2 separate regions of the Homo sapiens genome follow, and region 1 is linked to region 2. A link means that fine-mapping ties the variant in region 2 to the plasma level of a protein whose gene starts in the linked region. Region 2 holds a variant in brackets. A gene starts in the other region. All regions are shown on their reverse strands. Region 1 holds the start of KLB (klotho beta). Region 2 overlaps FGFR4 (fibroblast growth factor receptor 4).

What was found. PIP is the chance, under the fine-mapping model, that this variant and not a neighbour inherited with it causes the effect. Protein levels are from antibody-based Olink assays in UK Biobank. Linkage for the fine-mapping came from a reference panel and not from the study's own genotypes, which makes the PIPs less certain.
Region 1: it holds the start of KLB, and the variant in region 2 is fine-mapped to the plasma level of the KLB protein (UK Biobank, PIP above 0.99).

The regions. Positions count from the first base shown.
Region 1 is chr4:39,404,460-39,409,980 of GRCh38, reverse strand. It overlaps KLB (klotho beta), which reads right to left and starts at 3,051. Exons shown (of 5, transcript NM_175737.4): 1 at 2,207-3,051. The coding sequence starts at 3,031.
Region 2 is chr5:177,096,388-177,101,387 of GRCh38, reverse strand. FGFR4 (fibroblast growth factor receptor 4) reads right to left here. Exons shown (of 18, transcript NM_213647.3): 16 at 4,647-4,784; 17 at 3,991-4,096; 18 at 3,244-3,861. The coding sequence ends at 3,712. Among named protein-coding and RNA genes, the nearest start is that of FGFR4, 12 kb to the right of the region's middle. The variant C/G (reference allele first, on the strand shown) is at 3,360.

The sequences.
Region 1 (5,521 bases), not on the chromosome of region 2:
TTTCACTTTAGATCCTTTGGTACAATGTGATATTTTTATTTTTTATTTATTATTTTTTTGAGACAGAGTTTCACTCTCGCCCAGGCTGGAGTGCAGTGGCGTGATCTCGGCTCACTGTAACCTCTGCCTCCCGGGTTCAAGGGATTCTCCTGCCTCAGCCTCCCGAGTAACTGGGACTATAGGCACGTGCCACGACGCCCAGTTAATTTTTGTGTTTTCAGTAGAGAGGGTTTCACTATGTTGGCGAGGCTGGTCTCAAACTCCTGATCTTGTGATCCACCTGCCTTGGCCTCCCAAAGTGCTGGGATTACAGGCATGAGGCACTGTGCCCGGCCCAATCTGATATTTTTAAATGTACATGAGCATGAATTGTTTTAAAAATTAAAAGGACTGGCTGAGCGCAGTGGCTCACACCTGTAATCCCAGCACTTTGGGAGGCTGAGGCAGGTGGATCATGAGGTCAGGAGTTGGAGACCAGCCTGGCCAACATAGTGAAACCCCTCTCTACTAAAAACACAAAAATTAACTGGGCTGGTGGCATGTGCCTGTAGTACCAGTTACTCAAGAGGCTGAGGCAGGAGAATTGCTTGAACCTGGGAGGTGGAGATTGCAGTGAGCCAAGACTGCGCCATTGCACTCCAGCCTGGGTGACAGAGTGAGACTTTGTCTCAAAAAAAAAAAAAAAGAAAATTAAAAGGACTAAATGAGAGGAATATTTTTCTAACTTTTGTATGCATAATCTTGATAACTGTTAAATACCTATACAATTTCTACCCTTTAAGGTCTTATTTTGTCAAATCACAGTATACCCACACATTAATATGTTCTATATACAACTCTAGTCAAAGATATGCAAATGACCTTGAAATCATAATGCAATCTGTTTACCTCAAGGGCAGATGTATCTGAAACCATAGTACAATGCACATGTGTAATAATCCAGAAAAGTTCAAAAAGAAAAGAAGTGATAGCAGATATTTTTGTATGTACAAATTTAGACATGGAATTATTTTATGTTGCTGTATTTTTTTTCTACTTCTGTATATTTAGCTTTTGATTATTAATAATTAAATTACTTTTTGTAGCACATTATAAAATTATATTGATAAAGTTTTTTCATTTTTAAAATGTAACAGGTGTGCAGAATAATTTATTTTTCCTAAGTAAACTATTTGACTCAAAAAGTTAAATTCGATTCTAGATATTAGCCTCAATGTGAGGCTAAATCTCTTGCAAATTCCTGAGTCTTCTTTTCAAAGCATTCTTAATGAAGACAGTTAGTGTTAATTATGTTGTCATTTAAAAAATCCATGTCCACAACAGCTGTATTTTACTCCTTAACCTTGGGAAAATTATTTAATCTCATTAAGCTTCAGTTTCCTCATCTTTTAAATGGGAAGAATAATAAAACTAGTTCAAAAGGCTGTTAAGAGGATCAACTGTAACGATGCATGTAAAATACTTAATGTAGTCTGTGGTACATAATAAGTACTCAGTAATTATTACCTATTATTTTGCTTGTATTTTCACTATTGTTTTACTAATTTTAACATTTCTCAACATTATCTCTAGCTTTTGAAATATATTGCTTGAAAATTGCTTTAGTAGAGCACATTCTTCCCAGTTCTTATGGGAAGAAATGTGTTTAGCTCCCATAACAATTAATCTTCTCTTTTTTGCTATGTAACACAAATAAAATCAAAAGTGAAGTATATTTAAATTTCTGTATTTAATATGCATGAGTTAGCTAACATTTATTTGGCTTACTTATTTACTTACTTTATTTACTTATTAGCTAAGTTAGCTATACTTAACAACAAATACATATTTGAAATGGTTGTGCCTTAAGATAATTCTGAAATGATTGCATGTTGTCAGAAAAGGGTTCCAACAATTAAATTTATGAAGCACTGTTTTCCCACAGAATGAAAGTAAGCTCATATATTCACACTGTAGTGTATAATGGTAGATTTAAAAATAGCCTCAAAGTGCAACTTTTGAAAAAACTAATTGGATTAATACATTAAAAATACCTTAGATAAATAAAACATACACTAACTTAAATGCAAAATTTGAGGATAGATCTTTTGAATTAGCTTAAAATCAGTTGCCTTGATTTCAGTGAAGAGAATTACTGAGGCAGAAGGTAAATTCTTAAATTCTTAGTGTTTTCTGAAGCTATAAGAAGAAGCTAGCTGTACAGTACCTTGATCAAGTTGTGTCCCACAGTGTAGACAGCTGCTAAATTTCCCTTCTCTCCAGGGGCATGCATACCTGTCCCATACCCATGCCAAGCCACTAGATATGGGTTGTGAATTGTAATCCAATATTTGACACGGTCCCCAAACATCTGGAAACAGTATGTGGCATAGTCATTGAAGATATCTATTATGGTATCATTTTTCCACCCCCCATATTTTTCTTGTAGTGCCAAAGGCAAATCCCAGTGGTATAAAGTAACTATAGGTTCAATGTTTCTAAGCACTAGAGCGTCCAGAAGAGTACTGTAGTACTGCAGACCTTTTGCGTTGGCAACTGTTACTATTCCATCGGGGAAAAGCCTTGGCCAGGAAATTGAAAATTGATAAAAAGAAACTCCTATAAAATCCAGGGCTGATAAGTCTTTTTCCAGAAAAATATAACTGTCACTGGAACCATTCGTGCTGCTGACATTTTTAAGGTGTGTGTGGATGAAATGATCCCATATAGAAGGTCCTTTTCCATCCTTCTTCCAACTCCCTTCCACTTGCAATGCTCCAGTCCCAATACCCCAGAAAAAGTTTTTAGGGAAAGTGTCATAGAGAAACAGCTGACTTTCATTTACCGGAGTAAAATTAGGATTTTTAGACCATATAGCTCTTCCATCTCCAGAGAATCCAGTAACAGCTCGTAGCAGAATAAGTGCTGACAGGATGACAGATCTTTGCAATCCCCCGTTGGACATTGTATTCCTATAGCGTGTGGTTATTTCATCAGTGCTGAAGAAAATCCATTCATTCCCTGGAGATCCTGCCGCACAGCCTGGCTTCATTTGCCACCAACTGCTGGACTGTCTTATCAAAGCTTCAGTAAAAGCTTGTGATTGTAAAGCTCTGTCAATGATTAGCTTGAACTGGGAGACTGAGGATGGGTCATAGAGAGCAACGTAATTTGAGGGAGGTGGCCCTATTGCAGTCACCAACGCGTCTCCTTCTCTCTCATTATGGAAAAAATTAGATGAAAATGCATCGGTGACAAGAGTTTGAATGTGTAACTAACACATATGTAAACACTGGATTAAAATCACATTATTTTCCGTGTAGCCTTTCATATTGACCCAAATCTTTTCTGAATGTTTTGAACATTATTGAATAAGGTATATAGCTTTTCTATTTTTAGAGTTTTTGTGTGGTAATTTTATAATCTCATATATCAAGAAAAATAACATATACAAGTATATAGCATTCCTACATACCAATAGTAAAGAATTAGAAAACACAATAAGAAATTACACTTCTCCACAAAATTATAACGCATCTAAGAACAATCTTAATAAATGTTACCTATTTTAGGAAAATTGCAAAAATGTATTGGTAGATTTGAGAGAAGACTTGAATGAGAAAATATAGCACTTTGTGGATGGAAAAATGAAATACTTTTCAATTTAATACATTTAACTTAACTAAAATCCTCTAATCTCTAATTTTATTTTTTATTTTATTTATTTAACTTAACTAAAATTCTCTAATCTCTAATTTTTTAATTAATTAATTAATTTTTAATAAGAGTCTTGCTTTGTAGCCTAGGCTGGAGTGCAGTGGTGTCATCACAGCTCACCGCAGCCTCAACTTCCCAGGCTTAAGCAATCCTCCCTCCTCAGCCTCCAAGTAGCTGGGACAACAGGCACATGCCACCATGCCCAGCTGATTTTTGATTTTTTGGTAGAGGTGGGGTCTAGCTATGTCCCCCAGGCTGGTCCTGAACTCCTGGGCTCAAACAGCCCTTCTGCCTCGGCCTCCTAAAGTGCTTGGGATTATAGGTGTGAGCCACCATGCCTGGCCTAATCCCAAATTTTAGTTCAAGAAAATTATTACGAAAGGCCAGGCACAGTGATTCATGGCTATAATCCCACCACTTTGGGAGGCCAAGGCAGGCAGATCACTTGGGGTCAGGAGTTTGAGACCAGCCTAGCCAACATGTTGAAACCCCGTCTCTATTAAAAATACAATTAGCTGGGCACGGTGGTGGGCACCTGTAATCCCAGCTACCTGGGAGGCTGAGGCAGGAGAATCTCTTGAACCTGGGACGTGGAGGTTGTAGTGAGCTGAGATCGCACCACCGCACTCCAGCCTGGGCAACAGAGCAAGACTCGGTCTCAAAATAAAAAAAAAAAAAAAAAGAGAAAATTATTATGAAAGTTCCCTTGAAGAATAGGCAATATTTATTTTTAAAAAGGAAAGAAAAACCTGAAAAAGAAAATAGCAAAGGCATAGACTACCTTCAGCATGATTCTGGAATAAAGATAAACATACAGAAAGAAATACATGCACATACAGAAAGAAATATTGTACCAAATCGATAGCCTCCAAATAACCTGTAAAAAATTTAATGTTTTACAGCCTGGGGAACATAATAAGGCCCCATCTCTACAAAAAAAATTAAAAACTAACCGGGTGTGGTTGTGCATGCCTGTAGTCCCAGCACTTTAGAAGGCCAAGGTGGGAGGATTGCTTTGAGCCCAAGAGGTCAAGACTGTAGTGAGCCATGATTGCACCACTGCACTCCAGCCTGGGTGACAGAATGAGACTCTGTCTCAAAAAATAATAAATAAATAAATAAATAAATGTTTTAAATATTTGAAGTATCACATATGAATGAGAAGCAGAGTGGTTAATAGTTTGGTCTCTGTGCCAGATGAGGTGGCTCACACCTATAATCCCAGCTACTTAGGAGGCTAAGTGGGGAGGACTGCTTGAGGCCAGGAGTTTTGAGACCAGCCTGGGCAATATAGTGAGACTATCCTCACCTCTAAAAAAAGATGATTGAGGCCCGGCACAGTGGTTCGCACCTGTAATCCCAGCACTTTGGGAGTCCGAGGCGGCTGGATCACCTGAGATCAGGAGTTCGAGACCAGCCTGACCAACATGGTGAAACCCCATCTCTACTAAAAATACAAAATTAGCTGGGCATGGTGGCACATGCCTGTAATCCCAGTTACTCGGGAGGCTGAGGCAGAAGAATTGCCTGATCCCGGGAGGTGGAGGTTGCAGTGAGCCGAGATCGCGCCATTGCACTCCAGCCTAGGCAACAAGAGCAAAACTCTGTCTAAAAAAAAAAAAAAAAAAAAAAAAAAAAAAAAAAAAAAAAGAGAGATTGAGCCTCTAGAGGCAGACTGCCTGAGTTTAAATATAGCTGTGTAACTTGCCCTCAGTTTCCTCTTTAAGAAAAGGCATAATAATAATATGCACTTCATGGATTATTGTGAGAATTAAACGAGTTAATACACTGAACCAAATGGTTTTCTCTGGAATATAGAAACGAA
Region 2 (5,000 bases):
CGCCCAGGCTGGAGTGCAGTGGTGCCATCTCCGCTCACTGCAAGCTCCGCCTCCTGGGTTCATGCCATTCTCCTGCCTCAGCCTCCCAAGTAGCTGGGACTACAGGCACCCACCATGCCCGGCTAATTTTTTGTATTTTTAGTAGAGACGGGGTTTCACCATGTTAGCCGGGATGGTCTCGATCTCCTGACCTCGTGATCCATCCACCTCAGCCTCCCAAAGTGCTGGGATTACAGGCGTGAGCCACTGTGCCTGGCCCGGCCTCAGTGCTTTTTCTATGGGCCCCTGTCACAGGCTAGAACCCAGGCAGACCAGGGAGGCCAGGCCCCAGCTGCTGCCATGCTGCCGGGAGCGGGGAGGGGAGGGCAGAGAGCTGGAGCATCAGAGCTCGCATAGGGGAATTAGCAGTATATGTGTCATTCTGACATGGGACATCAGGAATGTGGAATGGCCCCAGGAAGCGTGTGCCTGCCAGGGACGCTGGCAGGGAGGGGGTGCAGGGTGGGCAGCTGAGCCCCTCCCGGCCCCCAGGACCCACCAGGCAGCAGCTGCCCCTGTCACTCTGAGTGACCTGGGTCTGGTCTCCAATGTGCACATGGCCTTCTGGGAACCTGGGGTTCAGCCTAGCTCCTTCCTGGAGCCCCATTCTTGTGACCCTGGACCTCAGTTTCTCCATCGTTAAATGGGAAGAACAATCTTTATTTGGCAAGGCTGTGGCAGGGGAGAGCGTGGTTGGTTGAGCCTGGCACCGCAGCAGGCTCATGGTGGGAAATTGGAAAATGGGGCTGTTGTTCCACATCCCCTTAGAATACTGTCCTCACACACGATTCTAATCTCCCAGTCCTCTCCTTCCCAAGGTCAGGTCCAAGGGATCTGCTTCTCCTGTGATTGGCTGGACAGGCGGACACAGTCAGTGGACAGTGACCCCCCAATGGGAGGCTATACATTGGAGAGAGGGGCTCAGTCAGAATGTCCAGTGGCTTGGGAACCTTGGGAGGCCAAGGTGGGAGGATTGCTTGAGGCCAGGAGTTTGAGACCAGCTTGGACAACATAGCAAAACCCCATCTCTACAAAAACTAAAAAATAATTATCCATGTATGGTGGCATGCACCTGTAGTCCTACACACTTGGCAGGCTGAGGTGGGAGGGTTGCTTGAGCCCAGGAGTTTGAGGCAGCAGAGCCATGACCATGGCATTACTGCACTCCAATCCGGGCAACAGATCAAGACCTTGTCTCAAAAAAAAAAAAAGAAAAAGAAAGAAAGAGAGAGAAAGAAAGAAAGAAGAGAGAGAAAAAGAGAGGGAGAGAGAGAGAGGAAGGAAGGAAGGGAGGGAGGGAGGGAGGGAGGAGAGAGAGAAAGAGAGAAAGGAAGACAGAGAGGGGAGGGAAGGAGCAAAAGGAAAGGAAAGGAAGGAAGGAAAAGAAAGAGAAAAAGAAAGAAAGAGAGAGAGGGAGGGAAGAAGGAAGGAAGGAAGGAAGAAAAGAAGGAAGGAAGGAAGGAAAAAGAAAGTTGGTCAGTCTGGGGGCTTTCGGGAGTTAGTGGGGGTCTTTGAGAGCAGGAGGGAGCATAAACCCAGTCTGCTTTTGGAAGCTACCTCTGGAGCCACCTGCAGGGGAGGGAGCAAAAGGGAGGCTGGATACCTAGGGCTCGGAGGGGGGCACTCAGGGACACAAAAGCCCCAGCACCGGCTCCCAGGGAAGCACCGCAGCCCAACCCATGGGCCTCCGCATCACACCCTCCCCCAAGCCTATGTGCATCTGCACGTGCTTCCTCCTAAACCCTACGCCCCAGGAGGCAGGCGGGACAGGTGCACCCTACTCATGGGCAAAGACAGTATTATCAGAGAGGTGGCAGTGCTGGCCTCAGGAGCCACGCTGGACCGTGGAAGCGCATGAGGGAATAGGGTTGTTTTTTTTTTTTTTTTGCGACAGAGCCTTGCTCCCTAGCCCAGGCTGGCACGATCTCGGTTCACTGCAACCCTCGCCTCCCAGATTCAAATGATTCTCCTGCCTCAGCCTCCTGAGTAGCTGGGACTACAGGTGTGCCCCACTATGCCCGGCTAATTTTTGTATTTTTTAGTAGAGACAGGGTTTTGCCATGTTGTCCAGAATGGTCTCGAATTCTTGACCTCAGGTGATCCGCCCGCCTCGGCCTCCCAAAGTGCTGGGATTACAGGGGTGAGCTGCCGCACCTGGCCTGGAACAGGGTTCTTGAGGGAAGTAGTCAGGTGACTCCCTGGTTCCTGCCCTGGAGGAGGTACAGTTCTGGGGGTAAGATGAGTTCTGTGTGGGATACCGTCAGCTGGAGAGGCTATGCTGAGAGCTGGGAGGAGCCCAGAGTGAGGATAAACAATCATGAGCTGACGCTCAGTCTTCCAAGGAGGCCCCAGCCTCCAATCCCTCTGTCTGACCCCTCTGACCGCATATGCATTTTCAGCCACCACTCCCTGGGGGCAGACGGGGGCAATCCCGATGGCCTCCATGAAGGCTGTCCTGGTTGGGCAGTCCTGTCCCAGCCTGAGGCCTGTAAGGAAAAGGACAGGAGAGTGCCAAGTGCTGGGTCAGACACCATGCCTGGGCCCCCCATGGCCCACTCAAGGCTCAGGGGCTGGGGAGTAGCAGTACGTGCCAGGATGGGGCCAGGGAAGGAGGTTCCAGGCTCAGAGCCTTGAGAAGCTGCTCACTCTGAGGAGCTCTGAGTACAGGGCTGTGACGGCTCCTCAGTGGAAGACCAGGCAGGCAGGGACAGCTGCAGCCCAGGCGGGCGGCAACCAGCTGCTGCCCGGGAGACTGGCCAGGGCGGGGCGGGCATGGCCTCCACAAGCCCCCAGCCTGAGCCGGCAGAGCGTGGGAGCGGGCCGCGGCCTAAGGCTGGCTCTCAGATTTTCATGCTGTGTTAACGGTCAGCTTGGTTAATGCTGAGCAGATGGGGGAGGGGGGCTGCCAGCTCCCTTGGGGACAGCTGCAGGGCACACATGCACACACACACATGTGCAGAGGGTACAGGAGTCCCACCGTGTATAGTGCAATGCGGACTCAGCCCATTAATACTCATTCACACTGTCGCAGACACAAGATGGGGCTGGTGGGACAGGCGGACCCAGATAGGCACACACTGGCTCCTGGGGCAGTGGAGGTGGCGGAGCCCATGGCCTGGTCCAGTGCCCTCAGTCCGTGTCCTGTAGGCAGAACTCTGCTGGAGGGATCCCTCCACCTCACCCCACTCCATGTTGCTCAGGGAAGACCCAGGCACACAGAGCTTTATTTCAAAAAAATAATTTATAAAACGCCATTTGCTCCTGTTTTCGGCAGGCTTCCAGCTTCTCTGGGCTCAGGGGCCAATGCTCCCGTCAAGACG[C/G]TGGGGCAGCAGCAGCAGGGGGAGGTGTGGGGAAAGGGGGTTCAGAGGCCCAGAACCTCCTGCTGGTATTGGGAGGCAGGAGGTTTAGCATAGCAGCTCTCCAGCCAGGCTCAGCCAAACCCGGGATGGGGACTAAGCGCCAAGGTCCAAGAAGCCGAGCAGAACCCTGACATTTGGGCCATCAGGACACAGGCACGGCAGCTCCAAGGGCAAGGGCACGGCCCTTGGACACGGCACAGCAACTCTGGGCCAGGGGCCCCATGCTATCAAGGTCGAGCACTGTGTCAGGCTGTGGCTGAGCCCCAAGGCCCAAGGCCACCAGCCTATGTGCCTGCACAGCCTTGAGCCTTGCTCATGTCTGCACCCCAGACCCGAAGGGGAAGGAGCTGGATCCCAATGGCAGGGGGTCGTGGCTGAAGACAGAATCGCTGGAGGAGCAGGTGCTGCTGGCGTCCCCACCAGAGGGGGAATAGGGTCCGAAGGTCAGGCGGAGGTCGAGGTACTGTGGGGAACGGAGCTGGTCAGCCTCTGCAGCGCCCGGGATGGGACGGGGCGCATGTCCACGCGGTCAGGCCAGATGAGGCCTGGAGGGGAGCAGGCAGAGGGAGGTGGTGGGTGGGAGGGGCTGTACCTCCTCAGAGACGGCCAGCAGGACCTTGTCCAGCGCCTCCACCAGCTGCTTGAAGGTAGGCCTCTGGGAGGGCGCTGCGTGCCAGCACTCACGCATCAGCCCGTACCTGCGAGAGGTGGGGCGGAGGGTCACAGGGAGCCTCAGGCCTTCAGGAGGAAGGGGAGGACCGGGGGTTCTCTGGGTGGGGAGGAGTTTGGTGGGGAGTTTGATGAGGGATAGGAGGGTCATCAGTAGAAGCCAGGCCAGGACACTCCACTAGGCTGAGGAGGAGGAAGAGGAGGAGGAGGAAGAGGAGCAGGAGGAGGAGGAGGAAGAGAAGGAGGAGGAAGAGAAGGAGGAGGAAGAGGAGCAGGAGGAGAAGGAGGAAGAGGAGGAGGAGGAAGAGGAGGAGGAGGAAGAGGAGGAGGAGGAAGAGAAGGAGGAGGAAGAGGAGCAGGAGGAGAAGGAGGAAGAGGAGGAGGAGGAAGAGGAGGAGGAGGAAGAGGAGGAGGAAGAGGAGGAGGAGGAAGAGGAGGAGGAGGAAGAGGAAGAGGAGGAGGAGGACGAGGAGTTGTTGTTAGTGTTGTCCTTCTGGCCGGGACACACCCTGAGGCCATGGTCAGGGCAGAGGAGGAGGAGGACTGGAAAGTGGGGTCGAGGGCAGGGTGAGGCCTCACAGCTCTGGGGGGCAGTGTGGGGGTCGGTCCATCCGATGTCCCTCCCGCAGCAGCGAGAACAGCTCCTCCACCGGGATGCCAGGATACGGGGAGCCCCCGAGGGTGAAGATCTCCCATAGCAGGATCCCAAAAGACCACCTGGAGGTAGGGCCAGGGCTCAGTGTGGCTCAGCGCCCTCCCGACGACCGGGGCTAGGACGGGGGACCCCACAGACATGACCCACCACAGCTGTTGGGGAATGGGCTCCTCCTGGAGTCTGGGCCCACTCGGGTCCCAGACCAAATCTGAAGGAGCCCTCGAGCGCATGACTCCTGGGGCCACGTGACTTTGGGCAGTGCCTTGCCCTTTTTGTGG